3 separate regions of the Homo sapiens genome follow, and all the other regions are linked to region 2. The links come from fine-mapping of genetic effects on gene expression. A gene starts in region 2. Each other region holds a variant in brackets. All regions are shown on one strand. Distances are between the middles of the regions. Region 1 holds the start of LINC02901 (long intergenic non-protein coding RNA 2901). Region 2 holds the start of EZR (ezrin). Region 3 overlaps SYTL3 (synaptotagmin like 3).

Region 1 (10,713 bases), 52 kb after region 2:
CAATACCACAGCCCAGGAGAACTGGACACTAGAGCCGAGTCTTCCCTTTTTCTTCCTTCTGTACAGCATGGAAAGCCAGTCAGCAGGCTCCAGGAAGCAGCCTTTCTGATATTCTCTTTGCTTTTTTTTTTGAGACAGAGTCTCGCTCTGTCACCCAGGCTGGAGTGCAGTGGCACAATCTCGGCTCACTGCAACCTCTGCCTCCCGGGTTCAAGCAATTCTCCTGCCTCAGCCTCCTGAGTAGCTGGGACTACAGGCACGCACCATCATGCCTGGCTAATTGCTGTATTTTTAGTTGAGACGGGGTTTCGCTGTGTTGGCCAGGCTGGTCTCGAACTCCTGACCTCAAGCGAGCTACCAGCTTCGGCCTCCCAAAGTGCTGGGATTACAGGCGTGAGCCACTGGGGCTCCCCACTCTGATATTCTCTCAACTGCCTGTAAGCTCCACACTGCCCTCAGGATGGTGGTCTAATGCCTTAGCGTGGCTGTCAAGCCATCTGTGTTTTGACTGACCTTATCCCCCGACACTCCCAGATCGTGAGCCTTGTGCTTGGTGTTGCCTACAATCTCCATAGCCTTCCCCATCCTTCCACCTTTGCACACCTACTTAAATTCCTCCATGGTTGCAATTAGCTCTCAGCTGCCTTATTTGCTTATTCATCTCTCACTCCACTAGACTGCAAGCCCTTCCATAGCAGGAAACATGAACTACTCCTATTTATTCCTATGTACATGCTTGGGACATAGAAAGCAAGAATTATTTGTTGAACGACTGGATGGATGAATGAATGCTTCAAAAGAGCCATTTAAAATGTAGATTCTCATTGAATGCTCAGGTTTCAGGGTGATGGCTGTGTTCACTTGTTTAGCAATAGTAGAGGACATTTTCACTACCTGCTAGCGTTTGGCTCCTCAGTTTTGTTTAATAGAAGATGTAGTATTGGGGCAACAGTAATGAGTTAGAGAACAGGCAGGTTTTCAACAGCAGCCCTTTATTGCAGCAAAAATTTATTGCAGCAAAAGATAATCTGAGCCAACCACAACCTAAATCACTGTTGCTGGCAATGACAGGAGTTAAAAGGAGAATCAAAATGATTATGTTGAACCACTCTGGCATCCGGCATCTATTACAGTGCATCCTCAGTTCATGTTACTATTTTTGTAGCTAATAACATCAGTTTTTTCAATAATTGATCTTACATATTTAATATATATGTTAATTTCACATTACTTAGATACAAGTGCTATGAAAGATTGCTAAGTCTAAAAGCAGAAGTGAATGTGGTCTAAAAAAGTGAGTTTGATGAATTTCTTTTCTATTGAGCTGGCTGCTCATTTGACTAAATCAACTAATCCACACAGGTGTTTGGGTGTCAAGTACGTGTTGCCTAAGTCATATTCTTTTGAGCTAGAAAAGTTGTTCCACTTAATTTCAAACCATTTTGTTAATACTTTCCAAATTTCTGGAAATCTGCTCATTTAAAACTTACTTGGATGTCTAATGGTTTGCAAATTTTGTATTTTAGCAGTAGTATCCACCACTACCCTGATGTGCAACACACACTGCACATTTTACAACTTTATACTTGAAGACTTAAAAGTCTCCCTTTGACTGATTAGCGGTGTTGAAAATGATGGGTCATGTCTATGATGCAAAATCAATTGACAAAAAATACTGAATGGCTTTAAAAGGGAAAAGCATCTCTGAATTATGTTTGTAAAGGAACATCTTTAATTTTTCTTAAATTCTACTTTCTGTTCTTAGTTTTTTGTCTTTTTTTCTTTTTCTTTTTTATTTAGAGATGGGGTCTCACTGCATTGCTCAGGCTGGTCTGAAACTCCTGGCTTCAAGTAATCCTCCCACCTTGGCCTCCCAAAGTACTGGCATTACAGGCATGAGCTACTGTGCCCAGCCCAATGTTTTGCTTTTCAATAAACTTTGTTTTCTTTTTTATTTATTTAGTCTTACCAGACCAAATTATTTTCATTAAGAGTTATGGTCAGAGTTGGAGCTTGGGAGCAGTAAGAAGGAACAGGTTATAATAATAAAAATACTATTTCCCTAATACTTGTTTGTAAACCATGCTTTTTGTTTTTGTTTTTCAACATACCCATTTTTCTCAATAGGCTATATTGCTGAAAAGTTTTCAGAAAGTTCTATTAAAAAATAACCAAAGTCTTACACTTAATAGATTTTTAGTAACTTTGTTAAATGAATGTCAGACACAAAGCTAATGCTAGTATTTGGAAGTGATGTCGTTGAAGTTTTGATAAGGACATTTAAAGTTATGGATGATAATTAAGTCTTACTGTAAATTACTACCTGACTATGAAACTTAGTACAGTCAATGTAGCTCTGTAAGAGAAATAATAAAGATAGAATAGTCATGACTAGGTGCTTTTCTTCTTAATCATTCACGGGAAGGAGCAAAAAAGATAATGAACATTTTTTTGAATACCTATTTGTGCCACTCAATAATTCAGGAACTTCAGAGATCTCAGTTAATCCTTTCAGCCAAACAGGTTACAAATAAAGAATCTGAGGTTCATAAAAGTTTGGAAATTCATACAACTTCAGAGAGACGGGTTGGGGGATGGTGGGACTGGGGATTAAACCCAAGCCTGCCTGGCTCCAAGGCAGTTTCCACTGCAGGGTCTACTGTATTTGGAATTTCTATCAGGTAGTTCTGGTAGCTTTTTGGAAGAAAGTGTAGAAGAAAGTTTGAAAGTCATTCTTATGATCGGTTTGCTTCCTGGTTCCTAACCAACCAAGTGGATCTAAGTGAGGCCACTTTGTAAACAGGTCGTTCTCCAAATTGATGAACACAGCAGAATCTGAGACATTTTCAGAAACTTTGTACTGCAGATTTAATATGGTCTGTTGCTCAGGGGAAGCGGAGATTGTTGAGACTGTAGGCACCCTTATTTTCCCTCTCACATAGCAATCTTTTTTTTTTTCTTAAGACAAGGTCTCGCTCTGTCACCCAGGATGGAGTGCTGCGGTGTGATCACAGCTCACTGCAGCCTGAACCTCCTGGGCTAAAGTGATCTTTCCACCTCAGCCTCCCAAATAGTGGGGATTACAGGTGTGAGCAACCACGCCCCACAGTAGCAATCCTTTTCTTAAACCAGCAGCAGGACAAATGTCTTCCTGAAGATTTGTAACACCTGGTAGTGATCCCAACTCCTTCTGGGCCCGCTTAAGACTAAGTTTCTGGTTAGGAAAGAAGAAACTGCAGAGCTTAGTAGTTAAGGGCACACAGGAGTCAGACAACCTTGGGTGTGAATCCCGGCACTGCCATGGTACTAATGTGTTGCATGAGTCATGTTGAGAGGTGAGGCCAGCTGGACTTCCTGGGTCCAGTGGGGACTTGGGGAACTTTCCTGTCTTACAAGAGGATTGTAAAACGCACCAATCAGCAGGATTCTAAAAGTAGCCAGTCACGGGAAGGATTGAAAAAGAGGGCACTCTGATAGGATAGAAATGGAACATGGGTGGGGACAATAAGGGAATAAAAGCTGGCCACCCCAGCCAGCAGCGGCATCCCACTTGGGTCCTCCTCCATGCTGTGGAAGCTTTTTCGCTCTTCACAATAAACCTTGCTACTGCTCACTCTTTGGGTCCCGGCCATCTTTAAGAGCTGTAACACTCACCGCGAAGGTCTGTGGCTTCATTCTTGAAGTCACTGAGACCACGAACCCACTGGCAGGAACCAAGTCCAGACACAATGTTATGCAAGCTTTCTAGACCCTTTCTGTAAAATGGGTATAATAATAGTATCTAAGTCATGGGGATTTTGTGAGGATTAAATGAAATGCCTGTTAAGCATTTAAAATGCCTGGCACATTGAAAGTTCTTTTTGGAGACAAGTCTTGCTCTGCCGCCCAGGCTGGAGTGCAGTGACATGATCTCTGCTCACTGCAGCCTCTGCCTCCTGGGTTCAAGCAATTCGGTGCCTCAGCCCTGAGTAGCTGGGATTACAGGCATGCGCCAACACGCCCACCCAATTTTTGTATTTTTAGTAGAGATGGGGTTTCACCATGTTGGCCAGGGTGGTCTGGAACTCCTGACCTCAGGTTATCCTCCTGCCTCGACCTCCCAAAGTGCTAGGATTACAGGTGTGAACCACTGCCTTTGGGCCAAAAGTACTTAATTCTTATTGATGTCCACATTCAACAATTACTAGGTTTGTTTTTTCTGCATCCAGCTGCAAATGATCTTCAAAGTTGTGAACTCAGGAAATCTCAGAGGCGTTTATAGGCTTTCCAACCAGAGATGATATTTGTAATTCAAAGAAGTAAATAGAAATCCTTAAGAGAACCCCTTTCAAGCTAAGTTCCCATCTAATATGGAGTGGTGGCTTCGAATGATCCTTTTGGCTTATCTTTTTAAGTGTAAGAATTTTTGATGAATCACACTTCGTACCTATTTGGTCACTTTCACCAAAGTACAAAACCAGTCTGCCACCAGAAGAAATTTAATAACCTTGAGACTCAGAGAAGCAATGCTGCCTGATTGGTGGACAGCCAGACCAGTGAGGGTCAGACGTGGCTCTTCGGCTCCGGACACGGGAATGTGGTGGAAATGAGATCCTCCAGCGATTCTAAGGAGTGTTTTGTTCTTCTGGCTTAAGAGAAGGGCAGAGGACAGAACCAAGGGGAAAGAGAGACAGGCCCAGCCATTGTCTGACGTGAGGCACGATAACACATTAGAGGGCTGGTTTAGCAAAGGGCAAGGTAGAGTTGGCATTAGACGCGCTTGCAAAGGGAGGCGGGCAAGAGCTTCAAGACGCGAATGACACTTGAGCAGCCTGGGCTCACGTCTGGTAAGGTTTACGCCGCCTGTTCCCGCCATCTGGCAACTCCCTCCCAGAAGGGTGAGTTTGGTTCTTGGCAAATCCCCTTCGGACACACAAGCTCTTTTATTAAAATATAACCCCACTAACAGATTGCAGACTAGGCACAGAAGCCCCAAAGCACCCCCAGAGACCGCAGCAGTCCCGCCCCGCCGCCCCCGGATCCGCGCGGCTGCCAGAAGCTCCCCTCCCCCAGATCTTGGCCCCTCCCTGAGGCGCGCGAGCGTGTCGTCGCCCGCTCCCGGCCAATCAGGGCGCGCGACCAAAATAGCGCC[A/T]TATAAAAGCTGGATGGCGGGCGCGGCCGGTGCAGAGCCTCGCGCTGGGGTGGGGTTGCGCGCGCAGGTGAGGGGGGCGGGGCCGGCGCGACCGGCGGGGCGGGGCGGACACTCCCACCGCGCACCTGCTTCTGCCTGACGTGTACCCGGAAGGTCGTCAGCTCAGGCTCCAAATATGTAACAGTGAGTTTCTAAGTGAGTCACACGGACGCGGTTGGTTTCCAGTGAGGCATAACTCATCGCTTCACTCTTCTCAACGGTTCCCTCTTCGGAAGGAAGCGCAGTCCGCAGCGTCGTCCGAGGGCGTGATCGCCTGCGTCGCACCCGCGTCTCCAGTGGCCACCCCTTGTCCTACAGGAACGCGCATCTGCTTAGCAGGCGCTGAGCCCTTGAGGAGGCCTAAAATGAATGAACGCGGCTGTGCCTCCTGAGCAGGCTCACAGTTGTGGGTGGGGGACAGAAGGGTGTCCATGCCTAAGGTCGACGGCGATAAGACAGACGTTCTTCCCAGGAGGAGATCAGTTCCAGGTGGGAGGCATTTCTAGGAGTCACCTTTCTCCGAGGAAGTGACCTGAGCTGTAGGAGGTGGAATCACAAAGGCTTTGGTGCCCTACACACCTGGGTTTTAGCCTCAGCTTGAGTCACTCACCCAGTCTGTGACGCTGAACACATCAGGAAACCTCAAACTTTCCCCATCTTTAAGATGCAGATAATAGCCGGTCACCATGGCGTGTGCTTGTAATGGCAGCTACTCGGGAGGCTGAGGCAGGAGGATCTCTTGAACCTGGGAGGTGGAGGTTGCAGTAAGCCGAGATCGTGCCACTCACTCCAGCCTGGGCAACAGAGCGAGACTCCATCTCAATAAATAAATAAATAACACTACATGACTGATAGCATATTTTTGAGGAGCATCTCTCCCCCTCCGTGCTTGGGTTTAATCCCCCCTTCCTCTCTCCCTCCCTCCCTTCCTCCCTTCTTTCTTCCTTCGTTACGTTTCTCTTCATTTCTTTTTTTCTCCATCATTCCTTCATTTTTCTTATTTTTTCCTAACTGATATAATTTACACACAATAAATCGCACAGAAATTAAGAGGACAGCTGGGTGAAGTTTTACATATGTATACACATGTCATTAGCCCCTAGGTCAAGATCTAGAACATTTCCATCACCCCAGGTTTCCAACTGCTCCTTCCGGTCAGTAGTACTTCCCCAGAGGTAACCACTATTCATTTGGACTTAAATTACCAAGTATGAGTTGTGTCTACTCTTAAACTTCATGTAATTGCAATCAAGCATTATGCTTTATTCCAAACTTGTCCAACCCGCACAGGCCACGGTTTTGAATGTGGCCCAACACAAATTTGTAAACTTTCTTAAAACATTGCGAGATTTTTTGTGACTTTATTTATTTATTTATTTTTTTGAGACAGAGTCTCTGTTGCCCAGGCTGGAGTGCAGTGGTGTGATCTCGGCTTACTGTAACCACCGCTTCCCAGGTTCAAGCGATTCTCATGCCTCAACCTCCCGAGTAGCTGAGATTACAGGCTGGTGCCACCACACCTGGCTAATTTTTGTATTTTTAGTAGAGATGGGGTTTCACCATATTGGGCAGGCCGGTCTCAAACTCCCGACCTCAGGTGATCTGACCACCTCGGCCTCCCAAAGTGCTGGGATTACAGGCATCAGCCACCGCGCCCCGCCATGTGATTTTTTTTTTTTTTTTTTAGCCCATCAGCTATTGTTAATTTTAGTGTATTTTATGTGTGGCCCAAGGCAATTCTTCCAGTGTGGCCCAGGGAAGCCAAAAGATTGGACACCTTTGCATTTCTGTTTTTTTTCACCCACCGTAGTGTCTGTAAGATTCCTCCATGTTATCACACGTATCAGTAGTTTGAAGTTTGTTTATTACTGAATAGTATTCTATTGCATGAATATACTTAAGTTAACTTATCCTTTTTACCATTGATGTGTATGTGGGTTGTTTTCAGTTTTTGGCTATTATGCATAAAGCTGCTCTGAACATTCATGTAGTATGATGAATAATTGATTTTAGTAGGATATATACCTATAAAAGGAATTTTTGTGTCATAGGATGATAGGTGTATATTTAGTTTTAGTAGACACTGCTGGCAGTTTCCCAAAAGGATTGAATCAATTTTTGAAAATTGGCTGGCCGCAGCAGCTCACGCCTGTAATCCCAGCACTTTGGGAGGCCGAGGCAGGTGGATCACGAGGTCAGGAGTTCGAGACCAGCCTGGCCAATATGGTGATTCTCCATCTCTACTAAAAAAAAAAAAAAAAAAAAAAAATTAGCTGGGCATGGTGGCGTACGCCTGTAGTCCCAGCTACTTGGGAGGCGTAGGCAGAAGACTCTCCTGAGCTCAGGAGGCAGAGGTTGCAGTGAGCTGGGATCATGCCAATGCACTCCAGCCTGGGTGACAGAGCGAGACTACATCTCAAAAAAAAAAAAAAAAAAAAAAAAAAGGACTGGTCGAGGTGGCTCACGCCTGTGATCCCAGCACTTTGGGAGTCCAAGGCAGACAGATCACCTGAGGTTGGAAGTTCGAGACCAGTCTGACCAACATGGAGAAACCGCGTCTCTACTAAAAATACAAAATTAGCTGGCCATGGTGGCGCATGCCTGTAATCCCAGCTAGCTACTCGGGAGGCTGGGGCAGGAGAATCGCTTGAACCTGGGAAGTGGAGGTTGCGGTAAGCCGAGATCATGCCATTGCACTCCATCCAGCCTGGGCAACAAGAGTGAAACTCCATCTCAAAAAAAAAAAAAAAGAAAAGAAGAAAAGAAAATTATAGTTACTTCACATCCTTGCCAACAATTGGTGTTAACAGTCTTAAATTTTTGATGGTTATGCAGCAGTATTTCCTAGTGGTTTTTTTTTTTTTTTTTTTTGAGACAGAATTCTGTCACCCAGGCTGGAGTGCAATGGCACGATATTGGCTCACTGCAACCTCTGCCTCCCGGGTTCAAGCAATTCTCCTGTCTCAGCCTCCTGAGAAGCTGGGATTACCGGCATGCGCCACCATACCCGGCTAATTTTTGTATTTTTAGTAGAGACGGGGTTTCACCGTGTTGGCAAAGCTGGTTTTGAACTCCTAACCTCAGGTGATCTGCTCACCTCGGCCTCCCAAAGTGCTGGGATTACAGACGTGAGCCACCGCACACGGCCAAAATCAGGTTGTTTTCTTACCATTGAATTTTGAGAGTTCTTTAAATATTCTGGATACAAGTTCTTTATTAAAAAGACTCCCTTCCATTGACTTTGCACCTGCCACTTTGTGAAACGTCAGTTGGCCATATTTGTGTGAATTTATTTCTGGACCATTTGTTCTGTTTCATTGATCTGTGTCTATCCCTTCACCAACACGACACTGTCTTGATTGCTGTAGCTTTAAAGTAAGTCTTAGCGCCCTCCAACTTTGTTCTTTTTCCTGATTACTTGGGTATTTTACTTCATTTGACTTTCCATATGTATTTTAGGCTTGTCTATATGTTTTAACAATCCTGCTGGGAATTTTGTTCTTTTTTTGTTTGTTTTGTTTTGTTTTTCAGACAGAGTCTCAGTCTGTAGCCCCGATGGAGTGCAGTGGTGCCATCATAGCTCACTGTAACCTCAAACTCCTGGGCTCAGGGGATCTTTCTGCCTCAGCCTCCTGAGTAGCTAGGATCACAGGTGTGCATCACCACACCTGGCTAATTAAAAAAAAATTTTTTTTTTTTTTGGTAGAGACGGAGGTCTCGCTATGTTGCCCATACTGGTCTCAAAATTCCTGGCCTCGAGTGATCCTCCTGTCTCAGTCCCTGAAATGCTGGGATTACAGGTGAGCCACTGTGCCCCACCACGTGGGGGATTTTGGTTGTATTTGTGTTAAATCTATAGATCAATTGGAGGAGAATTGACAACTGTATTGAGTCTTCCAGTCTGTGAATATAGTATGTCTTTACATTTATTTAGATTGTTTTATTTCTTTCATCAGCATTTTGTGGTGTTCATATATAGATCCTTTACGTGGTTTGTTAGATTTATGCAGACTATTTTTCAAAGCCACTGTGATTTAAAAAATTTGGTTTCCGGATATTCATTACTATTATAAAGAAATATAGTTGGTTTTCATGTGTTAACCTTGTATCCTGCAATCTCACTAAACTGACATTGGTTTTAGAAGGTTTTTATGGAATCCATGAGATTTTTTACACAGGCAATCATGTTTGTGAATAGGTACTAGGGACAGTTGCGTTTTCTCCTTTCCAATCTGTATGACTTTCATTAAATTTTATTTCCCTGTTTGACAAGATAGGTCTTCCCGTGCAATGTTGAGTAGGAGGGGTGAGGTGGAGTTCCTTGCCTTGTTCCTGATCTTAGAGGGAAAGAAGCATTACGTCTTTCACAGTGTGTTTAGTTATAGGCTTTTTTGTAGGTGTGCTTTATCGGTTTAGAGAGCTCTGTTCGATTCCTCATTTGCCGACTGCTTGTACCGTGAATTGATGTTGAATATTGTCGGTTGATGTGGTCTTGTTGCAGATTACATTTTCATTGATTTTCAAATATTGCATCTCGGGAATAAACCCCGGATCATGGTGTGTAATTTTTTTTTATGTATTACTGTTTCAATTTGTTAGTATTTTGCATCTGTGTTGATGAGGGATATTGATTCATGAGGATCTTTTTTTTTTTTTTTGTATTTTCTTTATCTGGTTTTAGTATCATGATGATGCTCATCTCATAAAATGAGTTAGGAAGCATTCCTTCCACTTCTGTTTTCTGGAAGAAACTATGTAGAGCTCATGTTATATCTTTCTAAAATCTTTGGTACTATTTGCTGATGAAACCATTTGGGGCTGCAGATTTCTGTTAAGGAAGATTTTCAACTAGAAATTCAATTTTTTTAATAGATAAAGGATTTATTTAGGTTTTTAATTTATTCTTGGATGAGTTTTGGTAGCTCGTGGCCATCAAAGAATTGATCCACTTTATGTAAGTTGTCAAATTTATGTGTGCACAGTTGTTTGTGTAATTTATTACCCTTTTAGAGTCTGTGGGGTGCTCAGTGATAGCCTATCCTTCATTCCTAATTATTGGTTTTGATTTTTTAAAATTAATTTCCTATTTTCAATTCCAATGATTTCTGTTCTAATTTTTATTATTATTTTCCTCTTATTCTGCTTGCTTTAGGCTTATATTCTTTTCTTTTTATAGTTTTCTAAGGTGGAAGCTTGGATTATTGATACTAAATCTTTCTTCTTTTTTTTGAGACAGAGCCTTGCTCTTGTCGCTCAGACTGGAGTGCAATGGCACAATCTTGGCTCACTGCAACCTCCACCTCCCAGGTTCAAGTGATTCTCCTGCCTCAGCCTCCTAAGCAGCTGGGATTACAGGTGCCTGCCACCACTCCTGGCTAATTTTTTATTTTTAGTAGAGACGGGGTTTTGCCATGTTGGCCAGGCTGGTCTCTAACTCCTGACCTCATGATCCACCCGCCTTGGCCTCCCAAAGTGCTGGGATTATAGGCATGAGCCACCGCGCCTGGCCTCTTCTTTTCTAATATATGCATTAAGTGCTAAAA
Region 2 (10,709 bases):
AAAATTTTGAGAACACTGCACTAAATTAACCCTTCCTCTTAACTTTAGGTATGTACGGTGTGTACATATACTAGGGAAAACAAAAAGCTACTGAATTATTTGGATTTAAAAATAACGTAGTTTAAGGAGTCTGGTCCTTTAATATTTTGGGGGGCAGTGGATGTAGTAATGAAAGAAGGCAAGGACTTTTTTCATCAACGATTGTCACAAACTTATTAACATGTAACAACAAATCCAGACTCCCCACCTTCCCCCACACCTGGTCCTTCTCCAGGATTACTTACCTCAGCGATGGCACCACCACACATCCACTTGCGCAAGCCAGAAACGAGAAGTCAGCCTCGACACCACCCTTGGCCCTGCATATCCAACCCATCACCAGGCACTATCAATTCTACCTCCCAAAGAACTCTCAAATGCATCCACTTCTGTTCCCACCACCACCACCTTGGTCCAAGCTATGAGCTCCCTCAATGGTCTACCATAACTACCCTTGCTGTCTCCTGCCTCCTGTGATTTTCCTATTACAGATCACAGTCAACTTTTCAAAAGGCAAATCTGATCATGTCACCTCCCAGTCAAAACCCCAAGTTAAACTAAAAAACACCCAAGAATGGCTTACAAGGCATGGCCTGACCTGTCTTCCTCTCTAGCCACATTGGGCTTCATGTGAAACCCCAAACTCACACTACTTCCTCCCACCACAGGGCCTTTGCACACGTTGTTACCTCTGCCCAGGGAGGTCACGTCCTCAAGGATGCCTTCCTGACCTCCCCTATTTGCACCCCCACCAGCACATACACACTTCATCTACTCTCAGGCCTCATGTACCCCTCTTCAGGCATACTCTCTGAAGCTGCAGTTTTACATTTACTCTGGGATTGCTGTCTGTCCCCGAAACCAGACTGTAAATCCACTGACAGGGACTGTGTCTGTGAACATCCAAATACATTCATTGTGCCTTACAGCGTGATCATGGCAAATCACTCATCCTACCAGCACCTCTCACTGCCACATGGCAAAATGTTAGCTACCTAATTCACCACTGCCCCTCGTGGAGGAGGAGGGGTGGAAACAGATGCTACGCATCCTCCTCAATTGCGAGGGGATTGTGAGGGGGGAGTACATTCAGTAAACTGTCCCTGTTAAAATATTTAATAGAAAAGGTTATGTATTCCCAAAGAGGCAAGGTAATCTCAGAAATTACCTTAAAATTTTGGCACAGTAGAAATGTGAACACACTTTCAGAGTTTTCCTAATGAAAGGTAAACCTGCTTTTGTATTAGAAATGTCTATAACACTTCAGAAATGAACAGGTAAGATGTGTTGGAGCCACTTAAAGGCAGTTCAGCTCTATGGTTCTCATGACAGCTTAAAGAGATCTCAGCCCTGAACACAATCCCCTTTTCCTTCCAGAGCTTAACTACAGCAGTGTTCCTTGCTCACTCCCCATGCCTTCTTTCCACTGGGCAGAAGAAAGCAAGTGTGGGAGAAAGGCGCTCCGCAGTCACCCTAACATGAAGGGGCGGGCAGAGAGGATGCTTCCGGGACCAATGATCTGAGCACCAACTCCTACAACTCTCCCTAGATGGGGCAGACCCACAAGGCCACACAGCACACCATGTCCTGGGGACTGGCCTGAACAGAGGCCAAGGCTCCCTCTGGAACCCCAAATCACCCTCCTTGGACGTCAGCCAGTCACACATGAATAGAGTCCCTAAGCAGCTGTGGGAAAAGCAAAACCAGACAACAAACCACAGCTGTTCCTCCCTGTGGAGTGCTGCCGCGTGCGCCCCCCAGCCCTCAAGCAAGATTCAGCTGAAGTGTTACTTCTCAATACAGTCTGCCAATTTCCCCATCAGATGATTTTCCTTTCCCCATCAGATTTTCCTCTCGACGTTACCTAGGCTCTTTCCCAGTCTGACAGCACTTAGCGGGTTTTCAATTTCAGCATTTACCCCGCATCTTGGCCCAGGTACCAGACACTAAGCTTCCAGAGAACAAGGTCTGCCTCGCCCTCTGTGCAGGTCACTCCGCTTGCTGATGAATAAAGTCTTTTTTTTTTTTTTTTTGAGACAGAGTCTCACTCTGTCGCCAGGCTGGAGTGCAGTGGTGCAATCTCAGCTCACTGCAACCTTCACCTCCCAGGTTCAAGCGATTCTCCTGCCTCAGCCTCCCAAGTAGCTGGGACTACAGGCATCCATACCACGCCCGGCTAATTTTTGTATTTTTAGTAGAGATGGGGTTTCACCATGTTGACCAGGATAGTCTTGATCTCTTGACCTTGTGATCCGCCCACCTCGGCCTCCCAAAGTGCTGGGATTACTGCCATGAGCCACTGTGTACCGCCTCAGTCTTTTAAGTAACTGTTGCTTTTGGGAAACAGTATTAGGAGAAAACACAGGAAATGAGTATTTTCAGTTATACTGTTTTATGAATAAAGTCATCCACTCACTCAGTTCAGGCAAATCAATCAAAAATACTTTGCCCGTTGAATTCAAGGGTTAACAGTTGCAATGAATCAGGTGGAAGGCCAACTACTCAGAGGTATCCATCCTTTAAGTGTGTTTGCCCCTTAATCCAGTTGTTAAACATTAAGCCCAAGAAAACCACCTAACATTCTTCGCTAACATTCTTAACTTAGGCTTGAATAATTAGAATCAATAAACCTTTGTTTAAAGGACACATCCACAGAGCTGTTGGTGGATGTTTCATTTTAACATTTACTAAGGCAGCAAAAAAACCCCAAACCAAACCAAAACTAACTGGATCCTCTCTAACAGCCTTAAGAAATGTCATATTCAAATATGTGCAACCTACGATGCTCTTCTCAGTGATTTGTGGGATGGCTCTAATATAATTTACACACAGAAAGGCTTAGTGTGTTTAACTTATCTCTAAGACCCTCCTCTGCCAAAGAGGGGGCAGGGAGAAATTTCCCATGGCAGACAGGTATGGCTGACCTAAAAGGAAGCCTCTCAAAAAAGGGGTTTTGTTTGTTTTCAGACAACATCTCACTCTGCTGCCCAGGCTGGAATGCAGTGGCTTGATCTTAGTTCACTGCAGCCTTGACCTCCAGGGCTCATCAAGCAATCCTCCCACTTCAGCCTCAGTCAGAGCGCCAGCCACCACACCCAGATAATTTTTCTATTTTTTGTAGAAACAGAGTCTATGTTGGCCAGGCAAGTCTCGAACTCCTGGGCTCATGTGATCTGCCTGCCTCAGCCTCCCAAAGTGCTGGGATTACAGGCTCGTGCCTGTAATCAGGCCACCTCGCCTGGCCTCAAAAAAAGTTTAAAAATTTTAATTGTAGATATTATACAGAATACAGTCTTTCAAAGAGTAACTCTGGCTCTAATACACAAGGTGATGGCTACTGTCTTTCCTTAACAGTTTCACAACTATCTTCACTTTATCAAATGTCAGAAACATCTTTTAAGTTCTGATCTATCATAAAAGACCTCTAAAACAAAATGAAATGAAAACATACCTGCCATAAGAAATAAGAGAGAGAAGGGAGTTCTGACATTGCAACATGGATGAACCTTGAAGACATTATGCTACAGGAAATGAGACTGTCACAAAAGGACAAATGCTATCACGATTCCACCTGCATGAGGTATCTAAAGTTGTCGAATTCATAGAGACAGAAAGTAGAATGGTGGTTGCCAAGGGCTGGTGGTGGGGATGGGGAGGGAGAGTTTAATAGGTACAGAGTTTCAATCTGGGAAGATAAAGTTCTGGAGATGGACCTTGGTGATGGCTATGTAACAATGTAAATGTACTTAATACCTTGAAATGTAAACCTAAAAGTAAGAGGATAAACTGTATATTTTACCAAAATACAAAAAAGAAACCATAAAAATAAATTACCATTCATTATGAGAAATGAGAAAGAAAAGTAGTGACGGAGAACAGGTTAACTTTTTCCTGAGTGCTATCTTAGCTGAGCTCTGCACCTCTTCTTTTAGTGAAATAAAGAAAACCACACCCAGAAGGGTAATCTTCTTGACCACTCCTCCGCATACCGTTGCACTCAGCTCTGCCTGAGTAAGGGGTTGTACTTAGGTCAGTTTCATACCACATGCACTGTCAAGCCTCGATGTCACGTGTCACTTTTAAGTTTGAATTAAAAAGAAAAATTTTGTATAGAAAATACTCTGCATCACAAATGAATCATCTTGATGTAACTTAGGCAAAAATTATATTGGCTTCTGAATCTACTGGCATATTAATTCTTTATCCTAACAGCAAAATTAATACCTCTAACAAAGATCTTAGAGAACATAAAATGTAACAGAAGAAGCACACAAGGCCGGGTGTGGTGGCTCACGCCTGTAATCCTAGCATTTTGGGAGGTCGAGGTAGGCAGATCACCTGAGGTCAGGAGTTTTAGACCAGCCTGGCCAACATGGTGAAACCCCCTCTCTATAAAAATACAAAAACCAGCTGGGCATGGTGGCACATGCCTGTAATCCCAACTACTCGGGAGGCTGAGGCAGGAGATTCGCTTGAACCTGAGAGGCAGAGGTTGCAGTGAGCCGAGATCATGCCACTGCACTCCAGCCTGGGCCACAGAGAGAGACTCCGCTCCCCCATCCCCCACAAAAGGCACACAAGCATTGATTACAGAACCAACTTGTTTGAAAAACCAAAAAAAAATTCCAGATGTATCTGTAATCCCAATTTGTAATGAATCCTGATATTTTGTCCATTGTGATTCAAAACTCAAAAAATGTTAAACCTTCCCCCTAATGTCTAGTCACCAGTTCCCCAGTGTTAAAAGCAGGTAGAATACATACAACTTTCTAAGAAGCGTCAGTCCCAGAGAACCTGCCTTGTGCCTACAACCCCCAGGTCTCGCCAGCAATCTCAACACAATCAGATTCAAGGAGACAGAGGCGCAGGCACAGCCCTTTCATCAGCTGACCAGGAGTGCTCGGCCCGGCCTGCCAGGAACCTCTTATCAAACTCCACCGGCTGCCTGCATCTACAATTCAAGTCCATGGCTAACCTTCTGTTAGAGACAGAAATTCTGCTGCAGCCAGCAAGTTTGCTGGTGTACAGGGCACCGCTTCATGGGCCTAGTAGGAAGCGAAGCTGAAAGGCAACTTCCGAAAGCCAGTCTCCTCTCCCAAACGCCCTTTAATATCTCCCCAGTTGGATCTGGGGCGCCTGTGGTTTCGGACCCTTAGGAGCTCTGAGAACTGGTGTGTGTGGTCGGAAGCCATCTGAGTCTCCCTGTGATTTGGACTTTTTAAGAAACTTCTAAGTTGTATTACTATACCCTTTAAAAACAGACGGAAGCAGTGTAAAAAGGCCTCTAGTTTTTAGAAAAGACCGTAACTACTGGGGAGGGGGCTCACAAAGAAAAAGACTGCAGAGAAAAGCATCAAAATGGTGTTTTCCTAACGCTCCACAAAAGGGTCAACAAGTAACAAAGAGCGGCGAAAACCTCCTCCTATTCCTATCGTCTTCTGCGTGTGAGAAGAACCCTGTTCCCCAGGAACTGCCCCAACACCTCGAGCAGGTGCCTCCCCTCTCCAATGAAGCCTCTCCCGTCCGCCCGGCCCAGAAACTGGGCAACTTACTGGTTTCGGCATTTTCGGTTTCTGGTGAGTATCCTCGATCCCCGAAAACACGACTATCCAGCAGCAGCGAAGACGCTGTCCCAACCTGGAGTCAGAGCAGAACCCTTAGAGCGCCCGCCCGCCCTGCCTCGTCCTCCTGCCGCGCCCGACACTCGGCGCCCGCAGCGCGCTGCCGCTTAAGAACCGGCCAGCCCGGGCCCGGGTGAGTCAGCGCCCCGCCCAGCACTGCGGGCATGGGGAGGGGGCACGGGCGGGGCGGGGCCGGGCCGGGCCCCCGGCGAGGAGGCGCCCGAGAGCGGGGGCGCGCGCCCAAGGGGCAGCCGGCGGGCACTGGAGGTGCCCCCCAGTTGGGGGTGGGTCCGAGGAGAGGGGGTGCGCACCCAGGGGACCCCCAGCATGAAGGGGCTGGTGGGGGGCGCAGGCCCGGGAGAGAGAGGGCAGGGGGAACACTCAGTGGGGAGGATCGGGGGGAGGGGGCGCGGGCCCCGGGGAACACTCGGCCAGGAGGGTCAGGGGAGAGAGCGCCGGCCGGGCGGGGAGGGGTCTGGGGGACACTCGAGGTGCACCCAGCGGAGAGAGGCGGAGAAGAGGGGGCGCGGGCCCAGGGATACCCGGCGGGGAAAGGCCCGGGGAGAGGGAGCGCGCGCCTGGGAGAGAGAGGGCGAGGGGCAGGAGGAACACCTAGGAGGAAGGAGTCCCGGGACAGCCAGCGCGAGCCCGCGGGGCACCCGACAGGGAGGGGTCAGGGGAGAGGGGGCACAGGGCGGGCGGGGGGGCACTCGCTGGGGAGGGATCCGTGGAGAGGGGGCGCGGGCTCGGGGTCCGCCGAGGAACTTCCCGGGGCTGCCAGGAAGCCCGTGAGAAGCCGAGCACTCGGCAAGTTTCACTTTGTGTAGCAACCGTTGCCCCGCGGCTGCAGTCACAACCGTCAAGCCTTTGAGAAACTCTTTCAAAAACTGCAACCGCTCGGGAGCCGCCGAGGGACGGCGCCCAGGCACCCAGGCTCCGCGTTTCCTTCGGGAGAGACCTGAGGGGACCCGGCGCCGAGGGGAAGGTCGCGGGGCCGCGGGCCGGCTCAGCTCCACCTGCCCCGGGGGTGCCGGGCGAGAACCCCGCGCCGCGCCCCCTAGGCTGCCCGCCGCACCTGCCGCCGAACCCCGCCGCCCGCCCGGGCCCTCCACCAGGAACCCCCCGCCCAGAACCCCCGTCCCGACCCCGGCCGCCGCACGCCTCACCCGGCGCCTGCAGTGCTCCGTGTGCTCCCCGCCGCCCTTGCGTCCGCCGAGTGCGCTCGCTGCCCGCGCTCCCAAAAGCCCCGGCGGGGCGGGTCCCGGGACCACGCCCCTTCCCGCCCAGCTCCCGACCTGTGAGGTGCGCCCCCCGCAAGATGGCGGCAGCCGGGCCTCGGGCTGGGTGGGGGCGGAACTTGGCGGAAGTGCGCGCTACTCCCCTCGCAGATGCAAGTGGGGAGGCTGTTTGTCCCACAGCGGGCAGGGGGAAGTCAGGAAAACGTAAATAAATCTGGAGGGGCGGACGGCTTGGGGGAATCGCTGGACCGCTTGGGGCCGGGACCGGGGGCCAGTTCCGAGGCCTCGGCCCTGGGGCGGCTGCACCTGGCCCCGAGTCTCGGTGCACGTGGCCGGCCCAGCCGCCGCCTTTCCGAAGCTCTGGTTAAGTGGCACGTTTGTGGCCTCTTTTGACGTGACTGGCAAAAAGCTCCATGGGATTTCTCTGAAATTCTAGGAATTAAGTTTTTTTGTTTGTTTTTTTGCTAATGGTTCTCAACAAATTTTTAAGACACACAAAACACATACTTTGGGGGCCAGTAGAATTTGCTGCGGGAGAGCTCACTCTAGAAGGGGTTCTCAACGTCTGGCTTCCAGACGAGCAGCAACAGCATTCACTGGGAACTTGCATAAGTGGAAATTAGGTGTTGCTCAGCCTTAGGATTCAGAAACTCTAGGGCTGAGCCCAGCAATCAGTGTGTTACAAGCCCTTCGGGTGATTGTGATGTTGGCTAAAGGTTGAGACCAGAGCTTCTCCTGAATTCCTCTCCTGGGTTTACTCCTCCCTTTCTGCTTTTAGTTTTCTTGTTTGTAAAGCGGCATAATTATGGCACCTGTATCAGAGGGTTCTAATGAGGATAATGAGTTAGTACATGTACGATGCCTGGAACAGTACCTGACACTTAGTAAGCACTTAAATCTATCCTGGTAGAAAGAGAAACCAATGACTTTGGGCGAAGTTCCAAACTCTGTTTCCCAATTTGTTGAGTGAACATACTAGTAGCCCCACCTACATAGACTTGTAAGGATTAAATGAGATCGTGCATGTGGAATGCTTAACTCGTGCTAGCCTCATAGTAATTGATGCTTAACCTGTCTTCCTAGGGACACACTGCTGTTTGGGCAACCCTTTGTCAGGGCCTGTTATCTCCCACTTGCAGATCCAGGGCATTTCAGAGGTCAGAGAGAGGAGGGAGGCCTCTTCTGAGATTTTGACCTCTATTCAGGTAAGTGTATTCCCTCTGAAAGACTGAACTTTTCTTTCCCTTTTTTTTTTAGACGGAGTTTTGCTCTTCTTGCCCAGGCTGGAGTGCATTGGCGCAATCTCAGCTCATTGCAACCTCCATCTCCCAGGTTCAAGCAATTCTCCTGCCTCAGCCTCTTGAGTAGCTGGGATTACAGACACCCGCCACCAAGCCCAGCTAAATTTTTGTATTTTTAGTAGAGACGGGGTTTCACCATGTTGGCCAGGCTGGTTTTGAACTCCTGACCTCAGGTGATCTGCTCACCTCGGCCTCCCAAAGTGCTAGGATTACAGGCGTGAGCCATCACTCCTGGCCTGAATTTCTTTTTTATTAAAATGAAGTTATAGGCCGGGCGCTGTGGCTCATGCCTGTAATCCCAGCACTTTGGGAGGCCGAGGCAGGTGGAACACCTGAGGTCAGGAGTTCAAGACCAGCCTGACCAACATGGAGAAACCCCGTCTCTACTAAAAATACAGAATTAGCTGGGTGTGGTGGCGCACGCCTGTAGTCCCAGCTACTCGGGAAGCTGAGGCAGGAGAATGGTGTGAACCCGGGAGGCAGAGCTTGCAGTGAGCTAAGATCGCACCATTGCACTCCAGCCTGGGCAACAAGAGTGAAACTCCGTCTCAAAAATAAATAAATAAATAAATAAAATGAAGATATAATGGTAACTGCAGTAGAAAGAAAACTATGAAAGATATTTAAATTACCTGCACTGATAATGTTTCCAACTGGACATCAATACCTCCACTGCCTTATCACTGCCTGGAGCCTGGTTAGCCAGTTTGGGTTCCCAACTCTCATAATAGGATATGCCTCTAATCTAATTTTTATCTCGCTCCATTTGAAGTATACTGTCTTCTAAATTGAATGTTTGAAATAGCGGTGCCCCAAGACCTTGAAGAGCATTTCTGAACTTTACCCTTTAGGGGAATGCCAAAAAATGAAGTGGCCTGTGGCAGTGTGGTAAAAATGAAACGGCCAGGTGCGATGATTCAAGCCTGTAATCCCAGCACTTTGGGAGGCTGAGGCGAGCAGATCACCTGAGGTCAGGAGTTCGAGACCAGCCTGGCCAACGTGGGGAAACCCCATCTCTACTAAAAATACAAAAAATTAGATGGGCATGGTGGTGCACGCCTGTAACCCCAGCTACTCGGGAGCCTGAAGCAGGAGAATCACTTGAAACCAACCGTGAGGCAGAGGTTGCAGTGAGCTGAGATCGCACCATTGCATTCTAGCCTGGGCAACAACAGCGAAACTCTGTCTCAAAAAATAAATAAAATAAAATAAAAATGAAACGATGGCAGGTTTTTGAGGCAAACAGAGCTAAGTCTGAATTCTGCTTCCTGCAAACTGACCAACCTGGTCCGTTCGGGCAAGTCTGTCAACCTGACTGAGCATCCATCTCTTCATCTGTAAAATGGAAAGGATAATATGTATTTCATGGTATTCTTGTGTCACTGAATCATATCATATGAGCATTTGACTCACTCAACTTTTATGTACAATTAGCCCTCTGTATTTGTAGGTTCTACATTCATGGAATCAGCCAACCTTGGATGGAAAAGATTTGGAAAATAATAAAAATAATACTACAATTAAAATACCAATAAAAATCCAATACAGAATATAGTATAACAAGTATTTACATTATATTACATATTATAAGTAATCTGGAGATGATTTAAGATATACAGGAGGATTTTGTACATTATATGCAAATACTGTACCCTTTTATGTCAGGAACTTGATCATTGGAGAATTTTGGTATCCTCAGAGGTCTTGGAACCAATCCCCTGTGGATACAGAGGGATGCTATATAATCTTTCTTACATAAGTTAAAATAGTATAAAGTCATATTTGTACATGCATTCCTTATCATGTATCTTACATTACTGTAAGTATGACAACATAGCATTTACATGTTACTGTACTGTTCTGCCCACCAAGGAAACACTTACAGTGTATCTTATGAATGTTTTAAGATTTTCTAAGGGTAATTTATTTTCATCAGGGTTTGGAACCTAAACCCCTGCCCCCAGCACACACACAGAAGACTCAACTCCAGCTGTGTTGAAACTTGAATATGCATTAGAATCACTCATAGTGCCCTTCTCCAGGACTTATGGCTCACTAAGACTAAGTCTCAGGCAGCCCCTGGGAATCTGTTTCTTTAACAAGTCCCCACGTGGTTTTGATGATGTACACCACAATTTGAGAACAACTGACTTAGGATGTGGCAGGACCTTGACGCATATTTCACTTGCCTCTCCTTTTAGCCCTCATTTGTGAAGCTGTTCCTTGTGTTTGAAAGTCATCCTTTTGTTAATATATGATACTCAGTGCCTTGGAAGGAAGTGAGGAAACACTGGAGCCAGGACTACTGGAAACTTCCCTGCTGTTAGTTTAGGTATAAGACCTTGAATGACCCTTCATTGCCGGGTTTCCATTTTCCAGTTTTTCAGCTAGAGAAGGGTAATCCTAAGTCTGCCTCTTGAGCCTGGTGAAGGGCTGTTGGTAATTTCCTGGGAGTTCTTCAGACAAGGTTAAAACTAAAGTGAGGAAGGGCAGCCCTCCCGGAAGCTCAG
Region 3 (10,713 bases), 69 kb before region 2:
TGGTTCTTCTCTCAGGCTGCTCACACCTTTTGCCAAGCTCCTCTGTCCATTCTCTTCTATCTTCACTTCTCATACCTCACTCACTCATGCTGGTGCACCAGTCCAAGCTTTTTTTTTTTTTTTTTTTTTTTTTTTGGTAGAGATGGGGTTTTACCATGTTGGCCAGGCTGGTCTCAAACTCCTGACTTCAAGTGATCCGCCTGCCTCTGCCTCCCAAAGTGCTGGGATTACAGGCATGAGCCACTGTGCCCGGCCTGTGCCTTTTTGAGTGTGTAAAAATTTTACATTGTTTTCCATTTTAACAGTGGAATGGTGTTGACAGGTGAGATTTTTCAGAGCCAGTGACTGGATGTGGTGAAGCTTGTTTTGTTCTTAGCATTCATCAGTTCAGGTTCCAGCCTGTCTGATGACTTGTTGGTATTGTTTATTGTTTGTTTGTTTGTTTTGAGATGGGGCCTCACTCTGTCGCCCAGGCTGGAGTGCAGTGGTACAATCTCAGTTCACTGCAACCTCTGCCTCCCAGGTTAAAGCAATTCTTATGCCTCAGCCTCCCAAGTAGCTGGGATTACAGGTACGCGCCACTTGCCTGGCTAATTTTTGTATTTTAGTAGAGACGGGGTTTCACCATGTTGGCCAGGCTGGTCTCGAACTCCTGACCTCCAGTGATCCACCCTCCTTGGCCTCCCAAAGTGCTGGGATTACAAGGGTGAGCCACCACGCCTGGTCTCAGTTGCTGTTTTTTTTTTCTATTTTATCTTTCCCTTGTGGTTCTGACTTTCTGCCCCCAGGCTTGTTTTTTTTTTCTTTTTCTTTCTTTTTTTTTTTTTTTTTTTTGAGACGGAGTCTTGCTCAGTCGCCCAGACTGGAGTGCAGTGGGGCACTTTCCACTCACTGCAAGCTCCGCCTCCTGGGTTCACGCCATTCTCCTGCCTCAGCCTCCGGAGTAGCTGGGACTATAGCTGGGACGCCACCATGCCTGGCTAATTTTTTTTTTCTTTTTTTGTATTTTTAGTAGAGATGGGGTTTCACCTTGTTAGCCAGGATGGTCTCGATCTCCTGACCTTGTGATCTGCCTGCCTCGGCCTCCCGAAGTGCTGGGATTACAGGCGTGAGCCACTGCACCCGGCACTCCCATGCTTGTTTCTTAGTTTCTTTTCAAGATGTTTTATAGTGTGGAGGAGCTAGTTGGGAATTCGAAGTAGAAATCAGTTAGGCTTGTCTTCCTATAAAAAGGCAGCACAGAGATTGGTTGCATGCAAAGTATTTAAGCACGTTTAATAGTGATAAGGTAGCTGATTGTATCTTTTAGGCCCAGGAATTTTGTGCTAATTAATAACATTCATTAGCCTCTCCTTATCTACATCGTATAAGCTTGGAGTACCCTAGACTGTGATGATAGTTTTATTTTTCATTTTAGGTAACCAGAAAAATTCAGATACAATTTACTGTTACCATTGGGTGCACACTTTACTTGCTTTATTCTATTTATTCCTCACCATAGCCCTGTGAGATCAGTATGGTTTTTTCCAGTTAGACTTTGCCACAGCTAATGAGTGGCAGCACTAGCATTTGAGTCCAGGTCTATCTGATTCCCAGTCGCAGCCACTTAGCCCCAGACTGTGCCGCTTTCCGCATAGCTGTCCTGCCATGGATATTATCTTGGCCTCCTGGGAGTGATCTTGCAGAATTGCATAGGAGCTAGTCCATTTCGCCCCAAGCAATTTGTGTTAAAGAATGAGATCGTGTAACATTTATTGCTAGGCAAAAACTGTATCTAGGCAAGAGAGGGCCTTCTGAGGATTCTCTGTCTCCTTGAGATAGAACATGTGGCAACTTATTTTGGCAAAGTACAAGCTGGTGCATTATTAACTTGATGTGAGTCAGGATACATGCTGTATGAGTTTTTATTTATGTGCTGTCTTGAAACCAGAACATCAAAAAAGTGAATTAACTGAAGTAACTTATTATATCTGTTATTCTTGATTTCAGGGAAGTTTAATTAGCATTGACAGCACCTGTACAGAGATGGGCAATTTTGACAATGCTAATGTCACTGGAGAAATAGAATTTGCCATTCATTATTGCTTCAAAACCCATTCTTTAGAAATATGCATCAAGGCCTGTAAGAACCTTGCCTATGGAGAAGAAAAGAAGAAAAAGTGCAATCCGTAAGTTGTTTTTTTTAAGTTTAACATGAGACATATTGATTCCAAAATGTATATGAAAAAGTAAAAGTCTAAGAATAACCAAGACAATTATTAAAAAAAAAAACAAAATGAAAAGGCTTACTTCAAGTATTATTATAAAGCTGTAGCAATGCAAACAATGTGTTATTGATACAAGGACAGAACAAGTCAGGAAAGTAGAATCAAAAGTCCAGATACAGACCTTAGCGTATATGAAAACTTACATGATCAAGGAGTGTCTTAGTCCATTTCGGCTGCTGTGACAGAATACCATAGACCAGGTGGCTTATAAACAAGACAAATACATATCTCACAGTTCTGGAGGCTGGGAAGTCGAAGCTCAAGGTGCTGGTAGATTTGGTATCTAGTGAGGGCCCCCTTTCTGGTTCTTAGATGACTGTTTTCTTGTGTCCTCCCATGGTAGAAGGGACAAGGCAGCTCTCTTCGGGCCTCTTTTATGAGGGCACTAATCTTGTTCATGAGGGCTGCACCCTCATGACCTAATCACTTCCCAGAGACCCTACCTCCTAATACCATCACATTGTAGGTCAGGCTTCAACTATGAATTGGTGAGCGAGGTGGACATAAACATTCAGTTGTGGAGCTATTACAGATCAGTGGGGAAAAGTGGACTTCAATAAATGATGTTGAAAAATTTGGCTTTCCACGCAGGAAATACAAAATTAAAATCTTGATTCACACAATCCATAAAGAGATTTAAAATGTTATTCTCACTGACAGACATGAAAAGGTGTAGCACCATTATAATAATAATAATAATAATATTATTATTATTATTATTATTTTGAGGTGGAGTCTTGCTCTGTCACCCAGACTGGAGTGCGGTGGCGCAATCTCGGCTCACTGCAACCTCCGCCTCCCGGGTTCAAGTGATTCTCCTGCCTCAGTCTCCTGAGCATCTGGGACTACAGGCGTGCACCACCACGCCCAGCTAATTTTTGTATTTTTAGTAGAGACGGGGTTTCACCATATTGGCCAGGCTGGTCTCGAATTCCTGACCTCGTGATCCACCCACCTTGGCCTCCCAAAGTGCTGGGATTACAGGCATGAGCCACCACACCCGGCCAGCACTATTATTTTAATGTGCATTTCCCTTATTACTAACAAAGATGAGCAACTTGTTTTAAAAAAAAAAAAATAGAGACAGGGTCTCACTATGTTGCTCAACCTGATCTTGAACTCTCAGACTCAAGCAGTTCTCCCACCTCAGCCTCCCAAAATGCTGAGATTACAGGTGTGAGCCCAGCCTTTTGAGCCACTTTTTATATATGCATTTGCCACTTAGGTTTATTTTATTTTGTTTTTTTGAGACGGAGTCTTGCTCTGTTGCCCAGGCTGGAGTGTATTGGCACGATGTCAGCTCACTGCAACCTCTGCCTCCTGGGTTCAAGCAATTCTCCTGCCTCAGCCTCCTGAGTAGCTGGGATTACAGGTGCCCGCCACCACACCTGGCTAATTTTTGTATCTTTAGTAGAGACGGGGTTTCCCCGTGTTGGCCAGGCTGGTCTTGAACTCCTGACCTAAAGTGATCCACCCGCCTTGGCCTCCCAGAGTGCTGGGATTACAGGCATGAACCACTGTGCCTGGCCAGGCTTATTCTTTTGTGAGTTTTCTATTCATATCTTTTGCCCATTTTTCTTTTTAAAAATTTAATTAATTAAAATTAATTTTTTTTTAAGAGACAGGGTCTTTCTTGCTTTGTCACCCAGCTTGGAGTGCAGTGGTGCCACTATAGCTCACTGCAGCCTCAAAGTCCTAGTAGGCTCAAGGAATCCTCTCACTTCAGCCTCCTGAGTAGCTGGGACTACAGGAGTGGAGTGCAATGGCACGATCACAGTTCACTGCAGGCTCAAGCCATCTCCCTGCCTCAGCCTCCTGAGTAGTTGGGAGGCACATGCTTGTAGTCTCAGCTATGTAGGAGGCTAAATTTGTAACTTTTTTTTTCCAGCTAGATTTTTTAACTTATTTTTGTAGAGACAGGGTTTTGTTCTGTTGCCAAGGCTGGTCTCAAACTCCTGGGCTCAAGCCATCCTCACACCTCAGCCTCCCAAAGCTCTGGGATTACAGCCATGAGCCACTGCACCTGGCCTCCCATTTTTCTATTGGATTGTTTATTGTTTTATTTATTTACCAGAGGCTTTTTGTTAAACCTAATTTAAATAGGTTTAAAAATTATTT[A/G]TTAGTTATATGTATTGTACGTATTTTATCCATCCTAGCTGTAACTTGTTTTCTAACTTGTTTATTATGACTTTTCTTGTAGAAAGTTTAATATCAAATGTATCAAGCTTTTCCTTTAAACTCTCTGCTTTTTGTGTCTGTAGAAGAATTCCTGTGGCACCCAAGGGTTTAAATACGTTCTCTGGTTTCTTCTTATCGTTTTTTTTTTTTTTTCCCCACACTTAGATCTGTTCACATTACAAGCGGAATTGATTTTCTATATATAGTTTAAGGCAGGGGCCTCAGTTTTGCCTTTCTTTTTTCTTACATGGGGAACTTCTGGCATACTGTTTTAATTACCAGCTAAAGAGTGATGATGGGAAAAGAAATCAATTGTTGATTTAATCAAACTCTCTTCTGCTCTGAAATTTTTAGTAGCTCTTTAGTACCAGACAAATTAAGTACACATTTCTATAGCACTTGTGGTTCCTTCGTAACAGAATCTCTCCTATTGTTCTAGTCTTAGCTTTTATTATTACTCTTCCTGTACCGTCTACCTCAGGAAAACTGGAATAGTCTTTGCCCCAAAAGTATTTCCTGACTTTTAAATTTCAAAATTTGAGGAATGCAGTTAAAGCAGTGCTTATATTTAAAAGAAAAAGACTTAAAATGAATTATTTAAACCTCCACCTTAAAATGCTAGAAAAAGGCTGGGTGCTGTGGCTCACAACTATAATCCCAGCACTCTGGGAGGCCAAGGCAGGTGAATCACCTGAGGTCAGGAGTTTGAGACCAGCCTGGCCAACATGGTGAAACCCCATCTTTACTAAAAATACAAAAATTAGCCGGGCATGGTGGCAGGCACCTGTAATCCCAGCTACTAGGGAGGCTGAGGCAGGAGAATCCCTTGAACCAGGGAGGTAGACGTTGCAGTGAGCTGAGGTCACACCATTGCACTCCAGCCTGGGCAACAAGAGCAAAACTCCGCCTGAAAAAAAAAAAAATAGAGAATACTCAAATACCAGTATAGGAATGAAAGAAGAGACAACATGACAGCACTTGCAGACATTCAAGTATAATAAGGGGGTCAGGCTGGGGGCTCATGGCTGCAAGCCCAGCACTTTGGGAAGCCGAGAAGGGTGGATCACCTGAGGGTCAGGAGTTCAAGACCAGCCTTGCCAACATGGTGAAACCCCGTCTCTACTAAAAATACAGAGAAAATTAGCCAGGCATGGTGGCATGTGCCTGTAATCCCAGCTACACAGGAGGCTGAGGCAGGAGAATTGTTTGAACCCAGGAGGCAGAGGTTGCAGTGAGCCAAGATCATGCCACTGCACTCCAGCCTGGGTGACAGAGTGAGACTCCCTCTCATTAAATAATAAATAAAAATTAGCCAGGTGTGGTGGCACACACCTGTAGTCCCAGCTACTTGGGAGGCTGAGGTGGGAGAATCACCTCAGCCCAGGAGGGCTGTGATTGTGAGCTAAGATTGTGCCACTGTACTCCAGCCTGGGCAACCAAGTGAGACTCTGTCTGAAAAAAAAAAAAAAAAAAAAGAAAGAAAAAAATATATAATAAGGGGATATTATGTAAAACTTTGTGCTAATAAATTTAACAGCTTAGATGAAATGAACACCTTCTTTTCTTTCTCTCTTTTTTTTTTTTTTTTTTTTTTTTTAAGAAATGAGGTCTCACTATGTTGCCCAGGCTGGTCTCAAACTCCTGAGCTCAACTGGTCCTACTGCCTTAGCCTCCCAAGTAGCTGGGATCACAGGTGCACACCACCGTGCCCAGCCAATTAAAAAAAATTTTCAGTAGTGATGAGGTCCCACTATGTTGCCCAAGCTGGTCTCAAACTCCTGGGCTCATGCAATCCTTCCGCCTTGGCCTCCCAAAATGCTGGGATTACAGGCATGAGCCACCACACCTGGCTGAAATCGACACATTCTCAAGAGACACAAATTGCCAAAACTGACATGAAATGAAATAGAAAACCTGAATAACTCTATATCTGTTAAAGAGATTGAATTGGTAATTTGGCATCATCTAGAAGAGTTGAAGGGGCATATACCCTATCACTCCTGGTTATATGCCAAGAGAAGTGCTTGCACATGTGCACCATGAGCAGAGGGAAAAACTAGGACATAAGACAAATGTTCATCAACAGGATAAATGACTTGTGTATTCATTCAGTGGAATGATACGTAGGATTAGAGATGAATGAGCGGCAGTTACAGCAACATAGATGAATCCCAAACATAATATTGAGTGAAAAAAAGCAAATTATGGAAGAATGTATACAGAATGATCCCATTTATATAAAAGTTCAAAAACAGGGAAAACTAAGCAGTACATTGTTTAAGGAGACACATCAAAATGGTGAAACCATAAAGAAAACCAAGGGGGTGATAAATATAAAATCCAACGTGGTTATTACCTGGTTACGGGCAGGACTGTGATAGGGAAGTCACTGGTTATGTTCTGTTTCCTAAGCTGGGGGGCAGGGGTACATGGGTGTGCACTTTATTATAATGCTTCCAACCGTATAGGTATATTTTATATATTCTGTTTTACATATTTGAGATTGCATGAATGTGTAATGCTCAGTAACTTAAGAGTAAATGAACTGTGAAGAATTAGAGATGGAGTTTTGAGGGATTTTTTGTTTTGGTTTGATTTTTTGAGACAGAGTCTTGCTTTGCCGTCTAGGCTGGAATGCAGTGATGTTATCATGGCTCACTTCAGCCTTGACCTCCTGGGCTCAGGTGATCCTCCAACTTCGGGCGTCGAGTAGCTGGGACTACAGGTGCACACCACCACACCCAGTTGACTTTTAAATTTTTCGTGGAGATGAGTTCTCCCTGTGTATTGCCCACGCTGGTCTCAAATTCCTGGCTTATGGAATCCTCCCTGAGCCAGGTGCCTGGCCAGTTTTTGGGTTGTTTTGTTTTTCTTTTTTGAGATGGAATTTCGCTTTATTGCCCAGGCTGGAGTGCAGTGGCGCGATCTCGGCTCACTGCAACCTCCATCTCCCAGGTACAAGCGATTCTCCTGCCTCAGCCTCCTGAGTAGCTGGGATTACAGGTACATGCCATCATGCCTGGCTAATTTTTGTATTTTTAGTAGAGACAGGGTTTCACCATGCTGGCCAGGCTGGTCTGGAACTCCTGACCTCAGGTGATCCGTCCACTTCATCCTCCCAAAGTGCTGGGATTATAGTTGTGAGCTTCTGCGCCTGGCCTCCTGGCCGATTTCGAGTATTTTCACAAAAAGCTTAACCTAGGGGGAAGAAGAGACCCAAGACTGGGGCTAAAGAAGGGCACAGATAGAGGAGGCTCACTGTGATTTTTTACTTTGGAAAGTAGAGCCTGTTTCTAGCCTGTGGAGAGGGGGCTTGGGCTGCTGCTGGTTGGGGGGTCATTGCCATCACTGGGGCTGCCAGAGGAGCCATGAAGGGCAGCGTAGGGGCCTGTATGGAGGGGTCAGCCTAGAACAGGACAGGACATGTCTTCCTCTCCGCCTGGATTTCAGGGGCTGGGTGAGTGCAGATGGAGACATCTGTCATGCTGCGTGCGACCTCTAGACTCAGCAGAATCCCACTTCTCAGCGGTTGGGAGGAGCAGAGTCTTTGAGGCCCCTGCAAGGAAACAGCACAGTGCGAGGCATATGCTTTCTACTTCCACTTTTTTTTCTTTTGCAGGTGGTGGGTGGCAGAAGGGACGGGAATCCGGCTCATGGCCTTGACATCCAGGCAGGCGAGAGAATCTCTAGTTCCATGGTCTTCGCCAAATGGAGTAGGGCCTGAGGAAGGCAGGACGAGCTTCACACCCCCAGGAATATTCCAGAGGGTTATGTGGCTAGCATTTGACCATAGACTGCATGGATCAGAAGCTGCCCACCCAGCACTAACGTTGCTCACTATTAGGCTATTAAGTCCTTTCTATCAACCCAAAAATTCCAGCAGGAAGCCTGGTAAAGAAAACGCTGGCATGTGGGTTCTCTGCTGCCCCCAAACTCTTTATCCACCCCTTTCCCTGAGTTCTCACTCTGTCCCCGCTGTGTTTGGCCCCTAGGTATGTGAAGACCTACCTGTTGCCCGACAGATCCTCCCAGGGAAAGCGCAAGACTGGAGTCCAAAGGAACACCGTGGACCCGACCTTTCAGGAGACCTTGAAGGTACTTGCTGGACAGATATTCCTGTGCAGAGTCCTCCCGAGCCCGGGTGGAGCGCCTGGGGCAGAGTCCAGTGGATGGTGCTTTCAAACTCTTGACTCAGTTAGATATAATACAGACACCTATATGTTTCTTCGCAGCTCTGTCAATCAGTGTTAAGTTGGTAGAAAATAAATGTCAGCCTTTGTACAGGAAAAGTGCAGAGTCTGCCAGACTCAGGAATGGCTTTTGATTAATGATTTCTGAGAAGATGGTGAAAAAGAACCTGGCTGCCTCTTTGTCTCGGGCTAACACCGGGGCACAGGATAATTTTAAACATTAGTTTGTCTTAGTGAATGTTTCTGTCAAAGAGGTGCTCTCAGACAGAGTGCCCTGAAAATTAAACTCCTGAGTTACTGTCTTTGTAAAAGTGCCCCTTTATTGTATTTCTGACAAACTCAGGTTTCTTCTAATTTTATTTTTTTTAAATGAATCCTTTTATGAAAAATCTTACAAAGGAATTGTTTGGGTTTTCACTTTCTATGATACTAGGAAATGTGATTGATGGTTGAGGGCAGAGATGGGGCCATGCGCTCTGATGTCGGGTGGAAGGCTGCAGCTGAGGTCTGGTATCTGCAGAGAGCTGGCTGTGGTGGCCCCAATCTTGGTGCAGGGTGAGGGGGGTAGCCCAGAGCTGCAGAGGCTACCCTGCCGGGGCTGGGCAGCCAGAGGTCCCCTCGTCTCATGCCTATGACAGGAGAGGGCTTTGTTTGCCTTTCTTGGCAAGTAGGGGGTGTCTGTGAGCTGCCAGCCAGGGGCCATCTGGGCAGCTGGCACAGAGCCCTGAGTTCATTAAATAATAATAGCCCTTGTTTCCTGGGTCCCTACTGTGGCCAAGTGCTTTATATACAGCCTGGGGTAATTATTAGAATCCTCATTTACCCACGGGGAAACTGAGACCTAGAGAGTCCTTAGAAATACAGCTCAAAGCCACAAAGGACTGGCAGTTCTCAAAATTTGTGTGCGTAAAATCCCATGGGGATTTACATTTTTAAAACATTTCTTCTTTTCTTTTTTTTTTTTTTTTTTTTGAGATGGAGTTTCACTCTTGGTCGCCCAGGCTGGAGTGCAGTGACATGATCTTGGCTCACTGCAACCTCCACCTCCCAGGTTCAAGCGATTCTCCTGCCTCAGCCTCCTGAGTAGCTGGGATTAAAGGTACCCACCACGATGGCCAGCAAATTTTTTGTGTTTTTAGTACAGATGGGGTTTCACCATGTTGACCAGGCTGGTCTTGAACTCCTGACCCCAGGTAATCTGCCCACCCCGGCCTCCCAAATGCTGAGATTACAGGCTTGAGCCACCACGCCAGGCCTAAATTTCTTATTTTCTAAGATGCCCCTGTACTTAGAACTGGGGATTTTTTTAAAATGCAGATTCTGGGCCGGGCGCGGTGGCTCACGCCTGTAATCCCAGCACCTTGGGAGGCTGAGGCGGGTGGATCATGAGGTCAGGAGATCGAGACCATCCTGGCTAACATGGTGAAACCCCGTCTCTACTAAAAATACAAAAAATTAGCCGGGCGTGGTGGCGGGCGCCTGTAGTCCCAGCTACTTGGGAGACTGAGGCAGGAGAATGGCGTGAACCCGGGAGGCAGAGCTTGCAGTGAGCCGAGATAGCGCCACTACACTCCAGCCTGGGTGACAGAGCGAGACTCCGTCTCAAAAAAAAAAAAAAAAATGTAGTTATATAATTGGAGTTAAAAGGTTACCTACCTTAAAATGTACACAGAATCTCAAAGATATCACTTAAAATTTTTATCCATGGGTCTTATCTAGTATATTGTGAATATTTTATAGTCCTGGGAAACTTTCCAGTTACAATTAAAATAATCGGCATCTCTAATTGATCCTAAATGCAAAATAACCCAACACCGGCCAGCCTCATCCTTAATAGAAATATGCATAAGATGCGAAGGATGGGAAGCCGGGGAGGCCGATCCAGCATTAAAAGTCTCGCTAGAAGCCAGTATTTCCAATCACAATCACACCTTTGTGCAGCACCCAGGCTTTGTGCGACCTGAGGTGAGCCATCAGAGTACGATTCAGGTGGATGAGGCTGTGAGAACTGTCTCCAGCCAGTTTTGAGAGAAGTGCACATCAAATGCGAGGATCTAGAAATTGATCCTCAAATTTTT

The links.
Region 1: its variant is fine-mapped to the expression of EZR in whole blood (TOPMed, PIP above 0.99).
Region 3: its variant is fine-mapped to the expression of EZR in whole blood (INTERVAL, PIP above 0.99).

What each region holds. Positions count from the first base shown.
Region 1 is chr6:158,864,652-158,875,364 of GRCh38, forward strand. It overlaps LINC02901 (long intergenic non-protein coding RNA 2901), which reads left to right and starts at 5,163. Exons shown (of 3, transcript NR_160980.1): 1 at 5,163-5,326. RefSeq lists enhancers at 4,137-4,809, 4,810-5,482, 5,383-5,552, 5,483-6,156 and a silencer at 4,983-5,302. The variant A/T (reference allele first, on the strand shown) is at 5,132.
Region 2 is chr6:158,812,491-158,823,199 of GRCh38, forward strand. It overlaps EZR (ezrin), which reads right to left and starts at 6,878. Exons shown (of 14, transcript NM_001111077.2): 1 at 6,827-6,878; 2 at 5,592-5,676. The coding sequence starts at 5,603. EZR-AS1 (EZR antisense RNA 1) reads left to right here and starts at 5,489. Exons shown (of 3, transcript NR_102425.1): 1 at 5,489-5,615; 2 at 7,982-8,103; 3 at 9,650-9,749. RefSeq lists enhancers at 728-777, 3,897-3,946, 4,810-4,979, 5,462-5,511, 9,033-9,132 and silencers at 3,555-3,614, 5,722-5,921, 6,062-7,051, 7,112-7,161.
Region 3 is chr6:158,743,491-158,754,203 of GRCh38, forward strand. SYTL3 (synaptotagmin like 3) reads left to right here. Exons shown (of 18, transcript NM_001242394.2): 12 at 1,990-2,168; 13 at 8,438-8,540. Among named protein-coding and RNA genes, the nearest start is that of MIR3918, 16 kb to the right of the region's middle. The variant A/G (reference allele first, on the strand shown) is at 4,386.